Homo sapiens: one gene and its partner. The protein of the gene in region 2 interacts with the protein of the main gene of each other region in a pairwise test. Each region holds a gene or a part of one and is shown on either strand. Other genes may lie near its edges.

Region 1 (7,035 bases), on a different chromosome or scaffold from region 2:
CAGATAATTAGTATGTCATGTCATTTGTGGCTTTCTTAAATTGACGGTCAGATGGTCTTTTCCAGCTGTAGGTCTTAAAATGCTAAAATCAGCATTCATAATATCTGTTTATTATTAGAGTAGATGCAATGCATTTTGAGCTATTAGAATAAAAAATGAAAGTTATATATAACTTAAAGACATCCTAGAATTCAACTAGGATTTCTATCTCCTAGGAACTAAACATATTTTCTAGGTAAATTATGCCATTATTATGGACCAATGTTGTAATGAAACTAGTGAGATGGTAAATTTGTAAAAATAAATTTCATTCACGGGGGACTGGAAAGCACCATTTCTTTCCTTAGAAAATAATTCCCCAAACTCCTACACTGGATAAATGACTTGCCTTTTTAAGGAAGTCTGGCTTTCTTAGAGGCTAGTGTTACTGTTTTACAGTTCACTTTCGTTTACATCAGGGGTGTCCAATCTTTTGGCTTCCCTGGGCCACATCAGAAGAAGAATTATCTCAAGCCACACATAAAATACACTAACACTAAGATAGGTGATGAGCTAAAAAAAAAAAATGCAAAAAAAAACTCATAATGTTTTAAGAAAGTTTATGAATTTGTGTAAGGCTTCATTCAAAGTGCTCCTGGGTTGCATGCGGCCCACGAGCCATGAGTTGGACAAGCTTGATTTACATGAAAAGATATGCTTTTTATTCATGTTTTTAATCTTGCTGCTGCTTTCTCATTCAATACTTTTTCTAAAAATATCTCAGAACAGGAATAAAAGTCAGATGATCAATTATGGCAAGATTAGTATTTAAAAACGAGTTAAAATTAGGTAGTCTGAAATTGCAGTAGTGGTGGGGTCTACCTGCCAGATGTGCCCACCAAGAGGTTTATGTGACATTGATTTCTCTGTCAGTTTCTCCTCACCCCAAAACTACCTTTCTTGATACTTTTGTGGCCTTCTTCCTTGCCCTTTGACCTGGCAACTGTACTTTCATGCCTTAAAAATTTATAAAACAAAGGAAAAAAAATCCGATTCTCAAATGCAATTATAAGTAACTATGATAATCAGGATGTAAATTTTTTCAGTATACAGGAAAGAGAAACACTTTTAACTTTTAAAGGAGGCCAGCCAGGTGCTAAGTGGCTCACGCCTGTAATCCCAGCACTTTGGGAGGCTGAGGTGGGCGGATTACCTGAGGTCAGGAGTTCGAGACCAGCCTGGCCAACATGGCGAAACCCCATCTCTACTAAAAATACAAAAATTAGCTGGGCGTGGTGGCATGTGCCTGTAATCCCAGCTACTCAGGAGGCTGAGACAGGAGAATTGCTTGAACCCAGGAGGCGGAGGTTGCAGTGAGCCGAGTCCCACCATTGCACTCCAGCCTGGGGAACAAGAGCAAAACTTTGTCTCAGAAAAAAATAAAAATAAATAAATAAAAATAAATAAATAAAGGAGGCCAAAGCATGCTTTACACAAAGGAAGCCCTGTTTGGTAAGGGAGTGAGACCCGTTGGTTTATAGTTAACACTGTCTTATGTTTTTTCGATTGAATTGCTAATGAGTAGTTTTCTTTGGCTCTAAATAACAATGTTACATAAGTAGGTTGAGAGCCTATATTACCTAGTATAAACTCAGTGCTGCTGCAGTTGATAAATGGAGCTATGATACAAAAACAGATGGCTCAAGTGGGATTTCAGATTGATTATCTGAGGGTTGTTACTCACCTGAGTATGTCTCCTCTTTGTCACAGAGCTGGTAACAGAGAGCAAGCTGTTTTTGGCTCAGAGCTCTACAGCAATATTCCTCAAACTGCCTGGTAAAGGATCAGTTTTTGTTTTTAATTTTTATTTCAATCCATACCAATACACTTATAAAAATGAAATAGTAGGAAAATGAAGTGAAAAAAAGACATAGAAAATACAAGCCCAAATGTATTGTTAAATTCAACAGATAAAAAATTACTACTATAATTGTAATAATCATATTGCTCTAAAAATTTCTGAAGGCTTTATCTCAGTTGCCATACTTTTCTTATTGCAGACCAGTTTGAGTTATAATGCCACATTTTTCATGTATTAAAACAGCAAAGCAGGCCAGGCGTGGTGGCTCACGCCTGTAATCCCAGCACTTTGGGAGGCCGAGGCAGGCGAATCATCTGAGGTCGGGAGTTCGAGACCACCCTGACCAACACGGAGAAACCCTGTGTCTACTGAAAATACAAAATTATTTGGGCGTGGTGGCACGTGCCTGTAATCCCAGCTACTTGGGGGGCTGAGGCAGGAGAATCGCTTGAACCTGGGAGGCGGAGGTTGCAGTGAACCAACATTGCGCCATTGCACTCCAGCCTGGGCAGCAAGAGCAAAACTCCCTCTCAAAAAAACAAAAAACAAACAAACAAAAACAGCAAAACTGGATGTAGTGGCACACACTGGTTAGTCCCAGCTACTCCAAATGCTGATGTGGGAGGATCACTTGAGCCCAGGAGTTCAGGGTTGCAGTGAGCTATGAGTGTGCCTGTGAATAGCCACTGGCAACATAAGGAGACCTACTCCCTAAAATAACCAACAGCATAAATCCATAAGTTGGCAGATGAAAGTAGTGCTATTCTTAGGATGATTTTAAAGATGAATATGATTAATAATGCACTGATTTCAAAAGGGACTGTCTGAGACAGTATCATTCAAAGTCAATGTTACTACTTGAACAAGCTATTAAAATCCAAATCTCTTCTGTTAAATGACCTTCTAGGATTGTTGTGAGGTTGAAATAATATAAGCACAGGCTTAACACTATGTCTAGAACATAATAAAAACTTTCAAAAATATTGAGGCAGATTCTCAATACTGATTAGAAAAACTTGTAAAGATTTTCATTTTTATAACTTTGTTCTAATTTATAATTGTTAAACCTTTTATTTGGAAACAGACTTAATAATGGGAAGCTCCTCCCCCTCCTCCCCTTCGCAGTCATGGAAACTTCTCGGCAATTTGTTTGGAATCCAAAGGTCTTGTTGTGGGGTTTGGTTTGCATTACTATTTACCATTCTATTTGGAGAGGCCAGGGCTTTTCCTCTACCCTCCCTGCTTTATACTATTTTTCTTAGTATTTAACTCTCTTTTCTTCATTATACTTACTCTCATTTTAAGCTTTGTTTTGTTCTTTCGTGTTTTAAAGTTTTGTGTCTGTATTAGTCCATTCTTACACTGCTAATAAAGACATTTCTGAGACTGGGTAATTTATAAACGAAAGAGGTTTGATTGACTCACAATTCAGCATAGCTGGGGAGGCCTAAGGAAACTTACAATCATGGCAGAAGAGGAGGCAAACACATCCTTCTTCATGGGGCGGCAGGATGGAGAAGTGCTGAGCAAAAGGGGGAAAGCCCCTTATAAAACCATCAGATCTCGTGAGAACTCACTGTCACAAGAACAGCAAGAACTCACTATCACAAGAACAGCATGACCTCCCACCAGGTCCCTCGCATGGGAACTACAACTCAAGATGAGATTTGGGTGGGGACACAACCAAACCATATCAGTGTCTGATTATAATAACTGACTCATTCATAATAAGTATCTTTAGGGGTTTGAGTTACCCGCAAATCAAAGGTTTATTGTGTCTGAAGAACAGATTTATTCAGTATGCTTCTGCCTCTACAATAGGTTCTCTTTGAAGTAGATTTAACAATGTTACATTTTTAAGGACTTTTATATTGTCTGGTACATTGCTCTTACCCTCTTATGGTAATACAAGAGATTTTATACCTGTTTGGAATTTCATTTGTAAATTCTAAGATTTGAGCCGGGCATGGTGGCTTATACCTGTAATCCCAGTGCTTTAGGAGGCTGAAGCTGGAAGTTTGCTTGAGGCCAGGAGTTTGAGACCAACCTGGGCAACAAGTGAGACCCTGTCTCAGATGAATGAACGTAAATTATAAAATTTTAAACTTTGCAATCTCAGTAAATTTATCCATATCTGGAAAGAAATCATCAGCTTGTCTTTTCTCAGATTGAACTACAGATTATTGTTTCATAAGGATCCTTGATAAAACTAAGTTTGGATCAAATAAAATCCGGTTGCAATATGATTCAATATTATTTTCCTGAAAAACTTTGTTTTCTCCAGGATACTATATTGATAAACATAATTAAGACTTATCTGCATAATAATATTAATAATGTTTATTGAGCTCTTTCTGTATACCAGGCAATGATATGCACTATCTTATTAATCCTCAGGACCAAGACTATGAGATACTGTTAAACCTCACTTTACAAATGAGCAAACTCAGGCTTGAAGAGGTCACAGACTCTGGTAGAGGTGTGATTTGGAACTAAGTCATTTTGATTCCTGTTGCCAAATCAGTCACTTGACTACTAAATGTTGCCTTTCCTAATGAATGCTGTGTAAAGAAGGAATGAAAATAGGATCTACCTAAATTGATGCCTTTAGCTCCCCAAATTAGGAACATCTTTCATACCTTCCACAGTATATCTCATGCTTTCTGCCTAGTCAGTGGAGTAGAACTTGAAACTCCAGAGGTAAACAGTCTCCAAATACCATTGAAACCTATAAGAAATAAGTTAATATGTCTTAGATGCCTTTTAAATTAACACCTGCCAATTTGGAATCTGAAGTAGTTCCTATTGTGAACTATCCAAGATGAATTTCACACTTGACATCCTCACAGGTTAGTCGTAAATTGTGCTGTTCAAGAAGTGACATCCTTTTCAAGAGAAGATGACATGAAATGGATTCAGAATGTTTCTGTATATGATAGTCTTAACCTCTCCTCTAATTAAAGAATTTAATGATGAGACTTTTGTTGAATGATAAGATCCCCTTCAGCTCAGTATGGAATTCCACACTGGGCTGAGCGCAGTGGCTCACGCCTGTAATCCCAGCTACTCGGGAGGCTGAGGCAGGAGAATTGCTTGAACCTTGGAGTCGGAGATTGCAGTGAGCTGAGATTGTACCATGGCACTCCAGCCTGGGCAACAGAGCGAGACTGTCTTAAAAAAAAAAAAAAAAAGTAGTAGTACTAAGTATGAGTACTGGTATTTCTTAAAACCTATAATGAAATTACAGAAATCTCAGTCTTCCTTGAATACTAATATTCAGTTTTTAACTTATTGAAATAAAATGGAAATAAATATTAGTTAGACTGGAAATTCTTTGTTTTTTTTTTTTTTTTTTTTGAGATGGAGTCTTGCTCTGTCGCCCAGGCTGGAGTGCAGTGGCGTGATCTCAGCTCACTGCAACCTCCCCTTCCCAGGTTCAAGCAATTCTCCTGCCTCAGCCCCCCCAGTAGATGGGATTACAGGTGCGTGCCACCATAACCAGCTAATTTTTTGTATTTTTAGTAGAGACAAGGTTTCACCATGTTAGCCAGGATGATCTGGATCTCCTGGCCTTGAGATCTGCCTGCCTCGGCCTCCCAAAGTTCTGGGATTACAGGCATGAGCCACCACACCCAGCCCTGGAAATTCTTACATGGAAATTCATTTTTAAATGAAAAGGTCTTGAGGGTAACTAATAGATAATTACATCAAACTATCTATTGCAAACCCTGTATTTATCTGACGTTAATTTCCTTCCTTCCTTTCTTTCCTTTCCTTCCTTCCCTTCCTTCCCTTCCTTCCTTCCTTCCTTCCTTCCTTTCTTCCTTCCTTTCTTCTTTCCTTCCTTCCAAATTTCACTCTTGTTGCCCAGGCTGGACTGCAATGGCATGATCTTGACTCACCATAACCTCCGCCTCCCAGGTTCAAGTGATTCTCCTGCCTCAGCCTCCCAAGTAGCTGGGATTACAGGCATGCACCACCACGCCCCACTAATTTTGTATTTTTAGTTAGAGACAGGGTTTCTCCATGTTGGTCTCAAACTCCTTACCTCAGGTGGTCTGCCCGCCTAGGCCTCCCAAAGTGCTGGGATTACAGGCGTGAGCCACTGCGCCCGGCCAATTTTCTTTCTTTTTTTTTTTATTTTGAGACAGAATTTTGCTGTTGTTGCCCAGGCTGGAGTGCAATGGCACGATCTCGGCTCACTGCAACCTCCTCCTCTCAGGTTCAAGAGATTTTCCTGCCTCAGCCTCCCAAGTAGCTGGGATTACAGGCGCCTGCCACCATGCCTGGCTAGTTTTGTAGTTTTAGTAGAGACAGGGTTTTTCCGTGTTGGTCAGGCTAGTCTTGAACTCCCGACCTCAGGTGAATCCGGCCTCCCAAAGTGCTGGGATTACAGGCATGAGCCACCGCACCCGGCCCTGCTATTATATTCTTTACGGTTCTCTCTTAGTCAATTCCTCATCATTCTAGTCCCCTTTTATGCTTTTATAGGTATTCCTTTTTTCTTTCTTTCTTATTTTGAGATGGAGTCTTGCTCTGTTGCCCAGGCAGGAGTGCAGTGGTATGATCTTGGCTCACCACAACCTCTCTCTTTGGGTTCAAGTGATTCTCCTGCCTCAGCCTCCCAAGTAGCTGAGATTACGGCTGCCTACCAACACGCCCGGCTAATTTTTGTATTTTTGGTAGAGACAGGGTTTTGCCATGTTGGCCAGGCTGTTCTCAAACTCCTGACCTCAGTTGATCAGCCCGCCTTGGCCTCCGGAAGTGCTGGGATTACAGGTATGAGCCACCATGCCCAGCCCCCTTTTGTAGGTATTCTTTATGTTAAACTTTCTCTCTTCAAATTACTTTATGCTTTCTCTTTGATGAAAGGACCCTGACTGATAGAGGTAGGTAATGGATCATAAAATCAAATAAGGCTGAACAGAGAATTAAGCCTGGAGTAAAATAAGACAGCCCCAGTGTCATGATATATGGCAGCTGACCTTCAGTGTCAGTGCCTGGGAGTCATTAGGGAGAAGTGAGAACTGTGGGCATCTAAAGGGCACATATCATTTGATGACACCAAATCTTCCTATTTTTCCAAAGCTAGAAATCTGGATTTTTATATGAAGTCTCCTGAATTTTATCCTTTGGCTACTTATTCAAATATTGTATCAGTGCGTGGGCCAAACAACCCATGTTTGTGAGTCTAC
Region 2 (7,035 bases):
ACCAGGGAGGGGATTGGAGGCCTGGGAGAGAGCCCTAAGTGATGGAGAGAGGGTGGCTGCCCCCCTGGTCTTCCCTAGGACTCAGTCTCTCCTGAGTGGGACAGAATCACTTTCCTGCAATTGATGAAGACAAGTCGAGTCATAGCATCTTAGGAGGAGCTTTACTGTAAGGGATAAACCTTGATTAAGGGCCTTCTCAGTGCTGGGCCTATGCTAGTCACTCCCCCTGTCCTCAGGAAACTTGAGGGAATCTGGGAGGGACGGGGATGTCAAGTGTTTCAAAGGAGGAAGGAGAAGATGCCAGCGGAGCTCGTGTCGGGGAGGCCCAGAGGAGGAACCGACATTTCCTGAGACGGGAAAGATGACTCCGAGGTCTCTGGGCCTGAGGAGGGGTGAGCGGGACATCTGAGACCAGAGCTGGGAGGAAGAGAGCCATCCTGGGGCGGCGAGCCTGGGGCCTTGCAAGGATCCCCTCACAGAATGGGGGCCTTTATCCAAGAGCACTGGAAGGCTCTGGCAGTTTTTGGTGACACTGGGGTTTTAGTTTTTTATTTGTTATTAAAGACAATTTTTTTTTTTTTTGAGACAAGGTCTCACTGTGTCATCCAGTCTGAAGTGCAGTGGTGCATTCATAACTCACTGCAGCCTCAACCTCTTGGGCTCAAGTGATCCTCCCACCTCAGCCTCTTGAGTAGCTGGGACCACAGGTCCCCACTCCACACTTGGCTAATTTTTTTTTTTGGTAGAGACAGGGTCTTGCTGTGTTGCCCAGGCTGGTCTTGAACTTGTAGGCTCAAGTGATTCTCTTGCCTCAGCCTCCTGAAGTGCTGGGATTACAGGTGTGAGCTACCACACCCAGCCTCCAAAGTGTTGGGATTATAGGCATAAGCCACTGCTTCTGGCTGAGATGGGGGTTTTAGAAAGATTTCTGAAAGGGAGGATGAAAGATTTCTGAAAGGAGGGAGGCTTGTTAGGAGGCTGAGGGAGGCAGGTGGAAGGACTCGCTGTGGGAAGAATGCCGGTTTCTTAGTTTCTGGCTTGGATAATGGATGGGATGAGCTGCCATTTAGTTAGTTAGTTTCTTTGTTTCTTTTTATTTTCTTTTTTGAGACAGGGTCTTGCTCTGTTGCCCAGGCTGGAGTGCAGTGGTGTGATCTCGGCTTACTGCAACCTCCACCTCCTGGCTTCAAGCAATTCTCATCCCTCAGCCTCCTGAACAGCTGGGATTACAGGCGTGCGCCACCATGCCTGGCTGATTTTTGTATTTTTGGTAGAGATGGGGTTTCACCATGTTGGCCAGGCTGGTCTCGAACTTCTGGCCTCAAGTGATCCACCCTCCTCAACCTCCCAAAGTGTTGGGATTGCAGGTGTGAGCCAACCGTGTCTGGCCACCATTTAGTTTCTTTCTGTCTGTCTGTTTTCCTTCATGCATGCAGGTGGTTAAAGAGAAACTGGAACAGTAAATGGCAGTATGTATAATGGTTAAGAGCAAGACCGGAGGCTCAGGTAGGGGTTGAATCCGAGTGGTATGGCACGGCTTCCTCCAGGCCCAGTGAGGAGGTCATCGTGGTAGACTGGACAGCACAGGTGTCTTGAGGACAGAATGAGTCAACACACATGCAGAGGGCTCAGAACTGCCCTGGGCCTTAGTGCCACCGCCAGCTTTGGCCTCGTACCCACACCTGGCCAGAAGTCCTAAGAGGGTCCCAGCACCAAGGACCTTTGGGAAAACAACCAGGGGACCAAAAGCCTACTACCTTGATAGTGGAGCTCCAGGCGCCTCAGCCCCGCCCTTCTCTGTTGCCCTCTAAAGAGAACTGGGCTGGGGTTCTGCCTGTCTTGGCTACAGCTGCTCCTGGAGACCCGGCGTGCCCAGGCCTTCGGCCCGCACGTCCCTTTCCCAGCACTGTTCTTGTTGCAATGCCCTTCCCTGCATCCACAGGAGAAAGGATCCAGGGTTCTATGCAGCGGTTGTCAGGGCCCAACACAAAACTTCAGGACCCTACATAAGCCCCAGATCCCCACTGGAGACCCCAGGGTGTGGTAGAGGAGAATCTGAGTAAGGCTGCGGCTTTCCCTGGAGAGATGCACAGCCGTAGAGTCCTCGGCTTAGAAGGGATTCCCCAGGGGACTCCTCCAAAGGGCCGAGAAGGCTTCTGAGGATCCCGCCCGTGGGGAGGATGGGCCGCCAGGCCACTTCCTCTCCATCGCCGCCTCGATCCCCATGGTCGTCTCCTCTGGGCGGTGTCCCCTATAAGGCGGCATCCCCTGTAAGGTGGCCTGAGCATGCATCCCTTCCTCTTCCTCTTCCACAGCCAGTTCATCAAAGCCTACAAGACGGGCAACATGGACCAGGCGCTGTCCCTGTGGTTCCTCCTGGGCTGGATTGGCGGAGACTCCTGCAACCTCATCGGCTCCTTCCTTGCTGACCAGCTGCCCCTGCAGGTGGGCCGGTACCCGGGCAAGGTGGCGCTACCCCTAACCCTGCTTCACCCTGCAGGGTTGCCTGAGGAGATGCCAGGCTCTTTGGCCCGCCTGGTCTCCAGAACCCTGACCCGTCATTCCATCTTGTGGGAGGGCCCCATCCTTCTGTCTGCCGAACTGTGACTGTGGGCAGGTCACTGCTCTTCTCTGGGCCTCAGTTTCCCCATCTGCAATATGAGCATGTCTAACAGGAAGGTTTCGGGGTCTTCCACCTCCAGGGTGCTGGAGTGCTGGCGAAGCTTTCAGAGGGTGGGCCCCTCGAGGAGAAAGGGAGTTTTTCCGTGGGAGGCCCAGATGCCATCCTGCTCCTGTGGGCAGGCAGAGCTGGGGCTCCCAATCAGGAAGGCATTGTCTTCCCATGTGGGACCAGAAAGTTCTGACTGCCCTGGTGTCAGGCCAAACCAGAGCCATCACTTCACCGCGGAGTCCCACTTTGTCCTGACTGCTAGCGCTGACCACCAGCTCATTGGCCCCTCCTGGGCTAGATCCTTTCCTGGGTCTTTCGCCCACCTGTTCTGTCATTCTGCCAGGTGGGAACTGGGAGTTCTTCCTTGCCAGATAAGGAAACAGAAGCTCAGAGAGGAGAAGTGACTTGGTCCGGGTCACCCAGCTGGGATATGACAGAGGGCTGCCGGGGCGTGGTCTCAGATCCTGGGACTGCGCCAACCCCTGGGCCCCCTGCATCTCTTACAGACCTACACGGCTGTGTATTATGTCTTGGCAGACCTGGTGATGCTGACGCTGTACTTTTACTACAAGTTCAGGACGCGCCCCTCTCTGTGTGAGTATGGGGACCGCTCTCTGTCAGATGCTCTACCAGCAGCAGGGGGCAGTTGTGGGGGGGGGCGCCTGGAGTGTGGGAGGAAGCGGGTTTCCCATGGCTGGGTGATAACCCAAACCTCGGAAAGCCTTCCCCGGGCCTTATCTAAGAGCCTGAGCCTTAACTGGCCAAGATAGAGGCTTGAGGGCAGTGAGCGCGTCCTGGCCCAGACCACAGGCCGGTTCCTCTCGCCCAGGGGCTCATTCAGCAGACACAGCTCCAGCTCCTCCTCTGTGTCCGGCCCTGGGCTTGGAGCTGGGGAAACGAGGGCAAGTCACACAGGCTGCCTCTGCCCCAGCCTTCAGGAGGAGCAGGAGACAAGGTCAGCTTGAGGCTATACAGACACGGGGAGGGACCTGGGGAGGAAGTTGTCTCATCAGCGTTCCTGCTTCGTGTAACCCCCTCCTGACCTCCCTGCCCTCAGCGTTTCACCTTTATAACTCTAGGAGAAGGGTACTGTTGTTGTACCCATTCGACAGATGAAGAATGAAAGCTCAGAGAGGTTAGGTCACTTGCCCAAGGTCACACAGCCCCTGAGGGGCAAGGCCAGGACTTAGCACCCTCCCCCGACAACCGCTGCCACTCAGCCATCTAACCTCAGCTTCCCCCTGCCTTGTGTGCAGTGTCTGCCCCCATCAACTCCGTGCTGTTGTTCCTCATGGGGATGGCGTGCGCCACACCGCTGCTGAGTGCTGCTGGGCCCGTGGCTGCCCCTAGGGAAGCCTTCCGGGGGCGGGCGCTCCTGTCCGTGGAGTCGGGCAGCAAGGTGAGGCGTGGGCGTGGCGGTCGAAGGGATGGAGGCTGGCTCATCCCCAGGGCTCTCCCCTGCACAGCCTCATGGGTGCTAAATGGGGTGGGGGATCACCTCTGGCTCCTACGAGACACCAAGTGCCCCCTTCTGCCCCACAGCCCTTCACCCGGCAGGAAGTCATTGGCTTCGTCATCGGCTCCATCTCCAGCGTGTTGTACCTGCTTTCCCGGCTGCCTCAGATCCGCACCAACGTGAGCCTCCAGCAGGGGCTGGGTGGGGCCGAGTAGAGGAGAGCTGGCCTGGCCACCCGGGCCCTCTGGGCTAAGGAGTAGCACAGCATAGGAGCCTTGGTTCAGAAAGTCTGGTCTACTCCCGCTGTTGGCTTGGGCAAGTTAATCCAATCTCCGAGCCTCCATTTCTGCTTCTGGAAAATGGGCGTGGCGTGGCCTGCCAGCCAGGCTACAAGAGGCCCATGTGTGTCTTGGGGGAGTGGGAGGTCAGGGGAAGGTGAGGGGCTGAGCTTGGAGGCCTGAGGGGAGAGGAGAAGCTGGGGAGTCGGGGAGGGGAGGCTTGCTGGGCAGCTAGAGCCTGTGTGGGGTGGAATGCAGGGTGGTGTGGGGCCACAGGCCTGGCACAGCCACGGTCTCCCGTGGACCTGGGCAGGGGCCTGGGGGGGCTTGTCTGTGGGTGGGAGGAGGCTCTTCTGTGTGTCGGGCCCATATCCCTGGGCACCCAGGGAAAGATTGGCTCAGAGCAGGTGCACTGTGGTGGGGCAGGTGGACATGTGGACAGTTACAATCCAGAGTGACAAGAGGCCTGTTCGAGGTCTCTGACCTGACCTCCTCCTGCCCCAGTTCCTCCGGAAGTCCACCCAGGGGATCTCCTACTCTCTGTTCGCGCTGGTGATGCTGGGGAACACGCTGTATGGGCTGAGCGTGCTGCTCAAAAACCCCGAGGAGGGCCAGAGCGAGGGCAGCTACCTGCTGCACCACCTGCCCTGGCTTGTGGGCAGCCTGGGCGTGCTGCTGCTCGACACCATCGTATCCTTCAGGGCGTGTGGGGCAGGTGGCGGGGTGTGGGCAAGGAAGCTTCTGCCTGCACACAGCGTCAGCACTCATCCGTCTCTTCCTCCCTTCATCCATCCGTCCATCCATCCATCCCTCCCTCCCTCCCTCCCTCCCTCCATCTGTTCACCCAGTCGTGCACACCTCCTGTGTGCCAGGCACCCAGCTGGACCCTGGAGCCGTGAGTGAGCAAGAACAGCCATGAGTGCCCCAGAAGCTTACAGCCCAGCGGGGCGCAGAGAGGACACAACGCTATCATCAAAGAATTACTTCATTGCAGTGGCACCAAGTGCTGCAGAGAAAAACAACAAGAGCGTCTAGCCAGGGACCGTCCTGGTTAGAGGGGCAGCAAAGGCCCCTATAAGTCTCATTGAACCTGTGACTTGACAGAGTAGGAGAAGTCAGGCGAAGGCAGGAGAGGAATGTTCTAGGCTGTGCAGACGAGAGCTGGAGTGTGGAGAGACACATGACTTGGTCAGACAAACCTGGGTTCAAATCCTGGCTCCTCCCCTGCTTCCTAGCTGTGTGACGCAGGGCACACAGTCAACCTCTCTGTGCTGCCGTGTCTTCACCTCAGTTAACAGCCACTGTCTCGTCAGGATGTTGTGTAAGATGAGGTATCTGGAAACACTCCCCACAGGACCCCGTTTTCAGTGAGGGCTCAGAAAGTGTTTGCTGAATGGCTGTAAAGAGCGTTACCTGGGTCTCATTTCGGAGCAAGTAAACATGGCCTTTGTTTTAATATTTGTTAAGTCCCTGCCGGGCGCAGGGAGGGGTGAAAGTTTAGGCTCTTGTGCCCCAAAACGGCCCAGCCACCTGGAAGCCTCCAGGACGCCACAGCTGAGAGCAAGCGAAGATCCTGGGCCAGGGTCAAGGGAGGCTGCCCACGGGAAGGAGAAGTCAGTGCTAGGCTTGGAGACAGATGGAGCTTGGCTAGGGCTTGAGGAGCCGGGCAGAAGTTCTGAGTGGAGGGCACAGCTAAGGTAGCGGCTGGGAGGTTATGGCTGGCCCTTCCCACCTGCAGCGTGGGGGTGGGAGGGAGGGGAGAGGGAGGCAGCTCCCAGGAGTCGAAGGCCCCCAGGGGCAGGTCCAACCCAGTCTCTGCTCAGCTTGGCCTTAACGGCGGCACCCCCAGATCTCCATCCAGTTCCTGGTGTACAGGCGCAGCACCGCCGCCTCGGAGCTTGAGCCCCTCCTCCCCAGCTGACCAGAACCAGGCTGAGCGCAGGAGGACAGGCACCACCGGATGCCACACCAGGCAGGAGGAGGTGTGGACAGTGATGGTACGGCGGCCCTGCATCAGCCTGCGGGTGGCCTCTGGATCCTCCGTGGACCGAACCGTCCCCCCAGGAACACACCTTCAGGTAGACCCCGAAGCCTCAAGGCCGGGGCTGGAGCGGAGACCCCAGGGCCTCTCAGGAGACAGTGAGGCTGCCCCTCCTACCACCTACCTCATTCTGCCTACTCACCCCAGGGGCCACAGCCACAGCCTGCTGGACTCAGGACTGTCCTGTCAACTCCAGACAACTGAATAAACAGGCCGGGTACAGTGGCTCGCACCTGTAATCCTAGCACTTTGGGAGGCCGAAGCGGGTGGACCACTTGACGTCCGTAGTTCGAGACCAGCCTGGCCAACATGGTGAAACCCCATCTCTACTAAAAATACAAAAATTAGCCAGGTGTGGTGGCACACATCTGTAGTCCCAGCTACTTGGGAGGCTGAGGCAGGAGAACTGTTTGAACCTGGGAGACAGAGGTTGCGGTGAACCGAGATCGTGCCACTGTACTCCAGCCTGGGTGACAGAGTGAGACTCCGTCTCAAAAAAATAAAAAAGATAACCGAGGAAACGGTACCTCCCCATGAGACCTGCTTCTGTTGCTCCTTCCCCAAGGTGCTGAGGGATCGGGGCTGCTTT

Evidence for each region. The genes of interacting proteins can lie anywhere in the genome.
Region 1: the proteins of SLC66A1 (region 2) and SLC39A9 interact in binary tests that used the Homo sapiens proteins (3 or more experiments, as listed by UniProt).

Annotation. Positions count from the first base shown.
Region 1 is NC_000014.9:69,401,672-69,408,706, forward strand, and holds part of SLC39A9 (zinc transporter ZIP9), read left to right. Parts: intron 1-7,035. UniProt on the Homo sapiens protein: Transports zinc ions across cell and organelle membranes into the cytoplasm and regulates intracellular zinc homeostasis. Participates in the zinc ions efflux out of the secretory compartments.
Region 2 is NC_000001.11:19,322,318-19,329,352, forward strand, and holds the end of SLC66A1 (lysosomal amino acid transporter 1 homolog), read left to right. Parts: intron 1-2,315; coding exon 2,316-2,445; intron 2,446-3,177; coding exon 3,178-3,265; intron 3,266-3,927; coding exon 3,928-4,070; intron 4,071-4,213; coding exon 4,214-4,306; intron 4,307-4,909; coding exon 4,910-5,095; exon of another isoform or gene 5,096-5,253; coding exon of another isoform or gene 5,254-5,304; exon of another isoform or gene 5,305-6,254; coding exon 6,255-6,326; 3' UTR 6,327-6,983; downstream 6,984-7,035. UniProt on the Homo sapiens protein: Amino acid transporter that specifically mediates the pH-dependent export of the cationic amino acids arginine, histidine and lysine from lysosomes.